2 separate regions of the Homo sapiens genome follow, and region 2 is linked to region 1. Evidence: fine-mapped expression QTL. Tissue or cell type: whole blood. Region 1 holds a variant in brackets; the other region holds the start of a gene. All regions are shown on one strand. Distances are from middle to middle.

The links. PIP is the estimated chance that this variant, and not a neighbour inherited with it, causes the effect.
Region 2: it holds the start of LINC02610, and the variant in region 1 is fine-mapped to the expression of LINC02610 in whole blood (TOPMed, PIP above 0.99).

Annotation. Positions count from the first base shown.
Region 1 is chr2:238,275,695-238,280,890 of GRCh38, forward strand. PER2 (period circadian regulator 2) reads right to left here. Exons shown (of 23, transcript NM_022817.3): 2 at 2,013-2,261; 3 at 1,437-1,499; 4 at 49-203. The coding sequence starts at 2,242. Among named protein-coding and RNA genes, the nearest start is that of PER2, 10 kb to the right of the region's middle. RefSeq lists an enhancer at 3,623-4,247. The variant C/T (reference allele first, on the strand shown) is at 2,623.
Region 2 is chr2:238,229,659-238,234,763 of GRCh38, forward strand. It overlaps LINC02610 (long intergenic non-protein coding RNA 2610), which reads right to left and starts at 2,019. Exons shown (of 3, transcript NR_026926.1): 1 at 1,676-2,019. It also overlaps the pseudogene TARDBPP3. RefSeq lists an enhancer at 4,584-5,085 and silencers at 4,786-4,915, 5,066-5,105.

The DNA.
Region 1 (5,196 bases):
TAAAACATATTTCTATAGGTTTGGAGCAGATGTGCGAGGCCGACGTACCTTTCACCTGCTTCACGCTCCTGAGGGCGTACTTCAAGGTGGCCAGCGTACTGGCCTTGCCCTTGGCCTTCTTGTCTGCAGGGAGGTGGACCTTCAGCTCCTTTAGTGTTTTTATCAGTTCTTTGTGTGTGTCCACTTTCGAAGACTGGTCGCTACTGCAGGATTCAAGAAAGAGGCAGCCAAATGTTAGCTTCCTAGGTGTCCTTTCCTGAAGAAACGTGCCTCTTGCCCATTTTCTCAGCCTCGGCTCTAGAGATGTTCTGGTCTGGGTGGCCCTTTGTGGGGCTCTGTAGATTTTCTCAGCCTCGGCTCTAGAGATGTTCTGGTCTGGGTGGCCCTTTGTGGGGCTCTGTAGATTTTCTCAGCCTCGGCTCTAGAGATGTTCTGGTCTGGGTGGCCCTTTGTGGGGCTCTGTAGATTTTCTCAGCCTCGGCTCTAGAGATGTTCTGGTCTGGGTGGCCCTTGGTGGGGCTCTGTAGGACATCTAGCAGCATCCCTGGCCTCACCCACAATAGACCAGGGAGACCCTGGCCAAGTATGACAATCAGAGCTGTCAACAGACATTGCCAGATGTTTCTCGCTGGGAGACAAATTGTTCCTGGTCAAGAGTCACCGCTCTAACCCAACTGAATGCTGGAGAAGTCCCTCCAACTGTGTTCTTTTCCCTGAAGGGTTAGAGCTAGGCTTTGCTCAGGAAAGGATACTGGTCGACCCATAGTCTGGTGCAGTGGACTGTGCACTAAGCTGTGCCCTTCTTCCCTGCCCCAGGTAAAGAAGGACTGAGTGATGGGATTACAGAGGACAGCAAAGTGACTTCCTGGGACATAAAAGTGAGCCATGAACACAGAGAAAAGGGGATTGTGGAAAAGGGTCTTCAAACATTAATTGAGGATACAGAGATGTTAGAGAGACAGGACAGCGGGGCACTGGCTGATGAAGATGGGCCTGTGTGGAACAGAGGGTGCAGAAGGAATGATGGAAATCAAGGTTTCTCAGGCAATGCAAAGTGCCCACATGCCCTGGACAAGGAGCCGGGTTCTGCTCCCGAGGTGACATGAAAATTGACATAGGGTAAGTTTGTTACAAACACCTACGAAGGGTGAAGAATGTTCCAGATGAAAATGCCCAAGACTCAGGCAAAGTCGGCTTCGAGTAGAGCTGGGAGGAGCTACAGGTACTGGAGCGACATCCCGGGGGCTCTGGACGGTGAGGGGACACAGTCAGTGTCTGAAAGGCCAGAGTGAGGCTGGGTTCGTACCCACATAGCCACACAGATGGGTTTTAGCACAGCTTAAAAAAAGCCACGTCACTCCCAGAAAACTAACCTCCAATAAGAAGTCTTTCAATTTCTCTAAAACCTCTATGTATGAAGTTCTAATTGGCCTTACCTGCAGCCACTTGTAGATGGGTTGTGTTCAGATTTTGCCATCATCAGGCTAAAGGTATCTGGACTATGAAAACAAAAAATAAAAGCAAAATTTAGACAATTGTATGCTCCAGACACATCTTCCCCTGCCATCCTACCAGTGATAACAGGCTAGATAATACCATGGTAAGACAATTTTTTAAAAATACAAGGTTAAGATAAAACTGGAATATAAAACCTTCAGACATCAGAAAAACTAAGTACCAGGACACAGAAACACATGATAACAGGAGCCAGTTCCTTTTCTATAAACTGCCCAGTGTTGTATAAGCAGCCACTGGCTGGGTTACCCACCACTGCTACCTCCCAAGATCTCCTTACACTACCCAGTACCTGTCTGTTGGCAACTGGATCTGCGAACTCGACAGGGCCTCGTTATGAGGAAGGACAGACACTGGCACATTTTAGGTATTTTCAAAAATCTTGAAAAACTTGGTAATCATGATTTAAAGATTGCAAAAGCAATCAAATCACAGCAGAAATGAGCCACTGAGAAAACAACCTGCCCAGCCTCCATCTGGCCAGAGGCTGAACTCACCTCTGGCGGGCATCCGGTGGCTCCACCAGCATCCCCAGCTCCTTCCCACTGTCGTCACAGTCACTGCCCTGCGAGTCCCGCCCCGTGGAGCAGTTTTCGTTGGTCTCATGTCCACTGGAGCCACTGCTCATGTCCACATCTTCCTGCAGTGGGACCTGGCTGGGCTGGGGCTCCACGGGCTCCTTGGTGGGGTTACTGGGGCTGGGCGGAAATTCCGCGTATCCATTCATGCTGGGCTCTGGAACGAAGCTGGCAAACAGAGGGATGCTGTCACGCATTAACAAGCACACGCACAAGGGGCGCTGCAGCCATCAGGTAGAGCACCCATTTGACTCTTTCTGTTACTAATGAAACTGCAGTCTCTTTCTTTCTTCTCTCTGTCTCTCTCTCTCTCTCTTTCTTTCTTTCTACTTTGGAGACAGGGTCTGGCTCTGTTGCCCAGGGAATGCAGTGCCTGGGCTCAAGCGATCCTCCCACCTCAGCCTCCAGGGTAGCTGGAACCACAGGCACTCACCACCATGCCTGGTTAATTTTTTGTATTTTTGGTAGAGACAGGGTTTTGCCATGTTGCCCAGACTGGTCTCGAACTCCTGAAGTCAAGCGATCTGCC[C/T]GCCTCAGCCTCCCAAAATGTTGAGATTACAGGCCAACCACACGCAGCCAAAACTGCCCTTTCATCGGGATCAATCACACGCACGTTAGTTCATCACATTACTTATTTGTTCTTATTGACAAGAGCTCCTATCTGCCATGGATTAGGAAGATGGTTGAATGAGGCAGCCTCAGCCCGACATAGAGCTGCTGACGGCCTCATCAGAAGGCAGACAAGAGCACTGATAATCAACACCCGGCCTGTGGGGTGCTGGGAAAAACACATGGTCCCTCTGAATAGGTGATCTGCCTTTTATAAATTTCCCCAGATGATGGTGGGGTGGGGGAGCCGGGTTCAGAAATCTTGGCCATTACAGCACGGCACAGTTACAGGAGGAGGAGCCAAGGCTAGCAGGAGACATGGGGACAGACAGGGCTTGCCGGGTAAAGAGGGCAGAGGGGCCTGGCAGGTGTGGAACCCTCCCAGCAGCTCGGGGATCCCAGGCCCCACAAGCATGTACAAGTGGGATGGAGAGGGGCCAGGACAATGTGGCTTCACATTTACTGGGAATGGTTGGGAGCTGCTGAGGCACTCTGAGTGCCAGGCCCACGGAACTCAGCTTGCATTTGGACAGGCTTGCACTGCTGTGCTGGTCAGAAACTTAACCTCTGCACTTTGGGGTAGGTGGGTGGAGTGGCTGAAATTAGAGACAGACCAGCGATCATCCTGGACACAAACTGAGGGGGGGTGAACAGAGACAGGGAGTAGGGAGGGGTGGGACTGATTAGCAGGTGAGAGGCCAAAATGCCATCCCGGGTCCTCCCTTCTTCACCCAGTGATGTCTCCCCATCCCCAGGACAGCGTTTTCAGCAGAGTCCCAGCAGGAAGCAGGCACCCACTCAAGCGGGGCACTGGAGAGAGCCAGATGAAGGCCCTGCTTGACACAAGTGGTCATGCTTAATGAACACAGCTGTGAGGCTCTGGGGTGATGCTGCTGACTACAGACATGATGCTAAGCACCCAACACACAGCTTCCCAGCAACTCTGGATCACGGTCTACATGGTGCGCAGGAGATCGTTCTACGGAGCAGCCAACAGGGGTGGGTAGCTCACCCCAGGCCACACAGTAGCAGATGACAGCCCTGGATTCCAGGCCTGCCGGCATCTGAAGATGGGACCCCCACCCTACACCCAGGCTCAGCTGTGTGGGGGCCTCCTGCTTCCTGCCACTGCACTGTGCTCAGCCCCAACTCTGGCCCAGTGTGGCATTCCACTTCTGCATGGCATCCGTTTGGCCCTTCCCAGGGCAGCTGGAACAAAGGGAGAGAAGGGTTTCTGGATTCCACACCCCAAATCTTGTGAAACATCTTATGCTCCAGTTCCCATCTAGCTCTGGGAGAGCCTCCCCTTCCACCTCCTTCCCACCAGTACCCACGTGAAATGACCAAGGATCATACAATTGGTCGGGGGGAGGGATCATTTTCAGCAGCCCTAGAAGTCCCGAAGGGTCCCAATCATTTGCCACAAAGTGAAGGTGCGTCCGGCTGCTTGTCGCTGAGATGGAAGGAGCATGAAGAGTGCACTGGAGTCCAAATACCCCTGAGGAAGTGGCTAGTGCTGAGATCCCTGCTACCCCCGGCCATGGAAGGCCCAAGCCATGGCCAAGGCTGGACAGTCAAGAGCTCTACCACCAGGAAGATGCTTCGTGAGGAAGCTGTGGGAGAAGAACGGACACAGGAACAGAAATCCTGTGGGAAGGAGAGGTTCTCCTGGAGACGCTTCACCCACTGAACACCCCCAGGTGCCCTCCCCAACAGGGCAACTCTAAGAAAGGGCTAGAAACCAGCCAGCAATACTGAGGGCTACACATACAGGGTGCCGGATTCCAACAGCTGGCCCCAGGAACTGAATGGCTAAGCTCCAACAAGAGCCTTCAGCATCCCCTTCCCCAGGTCGAGCCCATTCGCCGGTGAGCCACTCCAGGACAGCCTGGTGAGAGGCGGGGCTCATGGAGAATCCACCCACATCAGTGTCTGGAGAACAGCAGGGCCGACTAGACCTCGCCTTGTTCACAAACTAATAAACAGAAGAAAGCCAACACGGGGCTGTGGAAAACACACACAGCAAAGACAACTGAACACAACCCTCATGCCACAGAGGAAGCAGCAAATTAAGACACCATCTACTTTTCATCCTAAGAATTCAAGAAATGATGGATTCAATGAAACAAGTAATGAGGGATGAGATAAGGCCACTGACTGAGATGAAAATGCCACATTAGAATGGAAAACTAGAAAGGACAAAGTTCAGAATCAATAAAAAGAAAATGGCTTCAGTGATAGGAGATGCGTGACAGACTTTTAAAATGCAAAGGGAAAGGAGAAGAGAAGAGAGATGGAGGACAGCCGGGTTTTACCTGTGGATTACAGCTCTTTCTGAAAGAGACGAGAACAATAAAACAGAAACCATAATGAGCGAGACACATAAAGAGAACCATCCTGAACCAGAGACAGATCTGAATCTGCCAATCAAAGGACAAGAGTCCAACGCCTAAGTGCATCCAGATGACAAACGGTATCTTCAAGGATAAAGAAA
Region 2 (5,105 bases), 46 kb before region 1:
AGAAGAGGGCCTAGCAAAGAAATGTGGGGCACAATATTTAAGAAGACAATATTCGCCGGGCACGGTGGCTCATGCTTATAACCCCAGCACTTTGGGAGTGAGGCAGGTGGATTGCTGGACCAGCCTGGGCAACACTACAAACATCTCTCTCTACAAAAAAAATACAAAAATCAGCCAGGCATGGTGATGTGCGCCTATAGTCCCAGCTACTTAGGAGGCTGAGGTGGGAGGATCACTTGAGTCTGGGAGGTCGAGGTTGCAGTGAGCCATGATCGTACCACTGCACTCCAGCCTCCAGCCTGAGACAGAGTGAGAACCTGTCTCAAAAAAAAAAAAAAAAAAGACAACATTTAATATCCAGTTGTGAAGAGCCACTGCCAGAACCTGAGAAGGAATGGTGGAACAAGAAGAGCAAGAAGACTAGACAGAGAACAATTTTTTGAGATAAGGTCTCACTCCCATTGTCCAGGCCAGAGCACACTGGCGTGATCTCAATTCACCGCAGCCTTGACTTCCCGGGCTCCAGTGATACTCCCACCTCAGCCTCTCGAGTGGCTGGGACTACAGGTGCGGGCCACCATGTCTGGCTAATTTTTTGCATTTTTGGTAGAGATGGAGTCTTGCTATGTTGCCCAGGCTGGTCTTGAACTCCTGGGCTCAAGCGATCTGCCTAACTCAGCCTCCCAAAGTGCCGGGATTACAGGTGTGAGCCACCGTGCTCTGGCAAGAACAATGTTTTAAGAAGCATGAGGATGTTGAGTATCAAATGCCGCAAAGTTCGGGTGAGAAAACTGAAGAGTCTACTCGGCAATCAGGAGTTCATTGGAGACTCTGGCAGAAGTTTTCTATAGTAGAATGGCAGGAAATGTAGCCATACTGAAATTTTGTTAGGGACAAACAGGTGATGAGGAAATGAAGAAAATGAGAATGAAGACTGTTTTTAAGAAACTGGAGTGTGAAGAAAACAGTAGGACAATAAGTAAGAAACCTCAACGGGGTGTGAGGACAAGTTCCCCAGGATAAAGTGGATAAGATGGAGGTTGGCACTTAAGATTTGGAGCAGGTTCAACAGAGAGGAATGGCAAGGTTTGAGGGATGGTTCCTGACGTCTAAGGGCGCATTTAATATTCTTTCAAGGTTAAGGTGGGGCAAGATCTGGAGGAGAGAGGATAGTACCCCAAGTGTCATCATCCATTGACAGGTCAATAGGTAGTACAGCGACATGGGAACAGAGCAGGTGTGCACAGAAAGCATGGTTTCCCAGGGAGGGCAGTATTTTTCCATGAGGATGCAAGAGTGAAAAGCCTGGGAGATTCCACGAAGAGCTGAGGGGCTTCTGAGCCACAGCTTAAACCTTAACCCTCCTCCTCTCAGATACATTCAAATCCAAGTACTGATAATAATCTAGTAAGACCTGGGCTTCCCTGGCTACCGTCTATCAAGGAATGCCAGTGTCTGCCTCTGGGCAGTGCGCGTTGGATTTGGGTTCTCTGCGGGGTCTTGCTGATCTTAAAGACAATGCAGGGGCCTTGTGAGTCTCACCTCTGTACCCCCAGCACATAACAGGTGCTCAACACATTCGCGAGGGGAGCGCTGAGCAAAGCGGAGGCCCGGGTTCCCTCCTGGAGAAACCTGCTTCCCCTCCAAGGCCTCAAGCGTCCGCTCCTTCACTGACCTCAATCGTTGATTTCGGCTGCACTTCCTATCCCTGGGGGAGCTTTCAACGCTCCGCCGTCCAGGCCGCCGGGCCCCGCAGCCCGCGCCCCGCTCTCTAGGGCTGGGCCCCCAGGGGCTGGACGACCTCTCTCGCCTTCGCTTTCTCAAGCGTAAATCGGGCGGCGGGGGCTGCAGAGCCTTCATCTCTTCCTCCGTCCCGGGATGTCGGAGAGACGGCAGCCCAGCCTCCGCCACCGCAAAGCTGCTTAACGGGCAGCGCGAGTCCCTCGGGCACCGTTGGAGGCCGTTGCTCACCGTTGGGCAAGTGCTTTAAGAAGCACGAGGATGTCGAGTGTCAAATGCGGCAAAGGGCTCAGAGCTCGCCGCCAAGGGGCGTGGCCTCCGGGCCGCGGCGGCCTCTGGGAGTTGTAGTCCCGCCTCAACTTGTGGTGGCCTCTTTAAAAAAACAAAAAACAAACAAACAAAAAAACACTGGCGCTTGGGTCCGTCGCTGCCTCGGTGTCCCTGTCGGGCTTCCCAGCAGCGGCCTAGTGGAAAAGTAAAAGATGTCTGAATATATTCGGGTAACCGAAGATGAGAACGATGAGCCCATTGAAATACCATCGGAAGACGATGGGACGGTGCTGCTGTCCACGGTTACAGCCCAGTTTCCAGGGGCGTGTGGGCTTCGCTGCAGGAATCCGGTGTCTCAATGTATGAGAGGTGTCCGGCTGGTAGAAGGAATTCTGCATGCCCCCGATGCTGGCTGGAGAAATCCGGTGTATGTTGTCAACTATCCGAAAGATAACAAAAGAAAAATGGGTGAGACAGAAGCTTCATCAGCAGTGAAAGTGAAAAGACCAGTCCGATTTAATAGTGTTGGGTCTCCCATGGAAAACAACTGAACAGGACCTGAAAGAGTACTGTAGTACCTTTGGAGACGTTCTTATGGTGCGGCAAAGCCAAGATGAGCCTTTGAGAAGCAGAAAAGTGTTTGTGGGGCGCCGTACGGAGGACATGACTGAGGATGAGCTGTGGGAGTTCTTCTCTCAGTATGGGGATGTGATGGATGTCTTCGTCCCCAAGCCGTTCAGGGCCTTTGCCTTTGTTCCATTTGCAGATGATCAGATTGCGCGGTCTCTTTGTGGAGAGGACTCGATGAAAGGAATCAGCGTTCACATATCCAATGCCGAACCCAAGCGCAATAGCAATAGACAGCAAGAAGTGGAAGATTTGGTGGTAATCCAGGTGGCTTTGGGAATCAGGGTGGATTTGGTAAGAGTAGAGGGGGTGGAGCTGGTTTGGGAAACAATCAAGGTAGTAATATGGGTGGTGGGATAAACTTTGGTGCGTTCAGCATTAATCCAGCCATGATGGCTGCCCCCCAGGCAGTGCTGCAGAGCAGTTGGTGTACGATGGGTGTGTTAGCCAGCCAGCGAAGCAGCCAGGCCCATCGGATGATAACCAAAGCCAAGGCAACATGCAGAGGGAGCCAAACCAGGCCTTCGGTTCTGGAAATAACTCTTGTAGTGGTTCTAATTTTGGTGCAACAATTGGTTGGGGATCAGCATCCAATGCAGGGTCGGGCAGTGGTTTTAATGGCGGCTTTGGCTCAAGCATGGATTCTAAGTCTTCTGGCTGGGAACGTAGACAGTGGGGTTGTGGTTGGTTGGTATAGAATGGTTGGAATTCAAATTTTTCTAAACTCATGGTAAGTATATTGTAAAATACATATGTACTAAGAATTTTCAAAATTGGTTTCTTCAGTGTGGAGTATATTCAGTAGTATTTTTGACATTTTTCTTTAGAAAAAGGAACAGCTAAAGGAATTTTATAAGTTTTGTTACATGAAAGGTTGAAATATTGAGTGGTTGAAAGTGAACTGCTGTTTGCCTGATTGGTAAACCAACACACTACAATTGATATCAGAAGGTTTCTCCTGTAATATTTTATCCCTGGACTTGTCAAGTGAGTTCTTTGCATGTTCAAAATGGAAGCCATGAATTAGAACTACATTCTTTATTCCTTGTTTTAATTTGAACCCCACCATATGGATTTTTTTCCTTAAGAAAATCTCCTTTTAGAAGATCATGGTGTCACAGTTTGGTTCTTTTGTTTTGTTTTTTAACACTTGTCTCCCCTCAAACACAAAAGTACAATATGAAGCCTTCATTTAATCTCTGCAGTTCATCTCATTTCAAATGTTTATGGAAGAAGCACTTGGTTGAAAGTAGTGCTGTAAATATTCTGCCATAGGAACACTTCTGTCTACATGCCTTCTCATTCAAGAATTCGTCATCACGCATCACAGGCCGCGTCTTTGACGGTGGGTGTCCCATTTTTATCTGCTACTCTTTATTTCATAGAGTCGTATCAACGCTGTGAACGCAAGGCTGTGATATGGAACTAGAAGGCTGTTTGAACTTTTGAAACCTTGTGTGGGATTGACGGTGGTGCTGAGGCATGAAAGGCTAGTATGAGTGAGAAAAGGAGAGAGCACGTGCAGAGACTTGGTGGTGCATAACGGATATTTTTTAACTTGGCGAGATGTGTTTCTCAATCCTGCGGCTTTGGTGACAGTGTGCAGACAGCAATGATAGCAAATAATGTACGAATGTTTTTTGCATTCAAAGGACATCCACATCTGTTGGAAGACTTTGAGTTTTTGTTCTTAGATAACCCACTTTATTTGAATGTGTTAAGTGAAATGATACTTGTACTCCCCCTACCCCTTTGTCAACTGCTGTGAATGCTGTATGGTGTGTGTTCTCTTCTGTTACTGATATGTAAGTGTGGCAATGTGAACTGAAGCTGATGGGCTGAGAACATGGACTGAGCTTGTGGTGTGCTTTGCAGGAGGACTTGGAAGCAGAGTTCAGCAGTGAACTCTGGTGTCTCAAAGAAGGGTAGAAGTTCTAATGTCTGTTAGCTACCCATAAGAATGCTGTTTGCTGCAGTTCTGTGTCCTGTGCTTGGATGCTTTTTATAAGAGTTGTCATTGTTGGAAATTCTTAAATAAAACTGATTTAAAAAAAAAAAACCAAAAATCTAAGTAAAGGGGTCGGAACTACATCTCCCAGGAGGCCCCGCGGCTCGCCTCTGGCGGGGCGGGGCTGGAGGGGGCGTGGTCAAGGCCTCGGCTCCTCCGAGCGCCTCCCAGCTCACGGCGCCCCCCGAACCCGGCTCCAAGGGACTCGGTATTCCCCAGCGCCGGCTCCGGGCAGTCCCGGAAGGGCTCAAGGGCTGGGCGACTGGCTGATCGAGACCGTCCGGGTCCTGGCTCTCGGGTCACTTGCAGAGGCCTGAGCAGAGCGTAGGGAGGGCTGGAAGGGAGGAGCCCCGGGGGGCGGCGGTGCTGAACCGGGTAGAGTCTTGAAGGTCACGGTCAGGACTGGAGTGGGAGGGGAGTCAGAGGCCTGCTGCGGAGGCCCAGGTTAGAAACGAGGCTG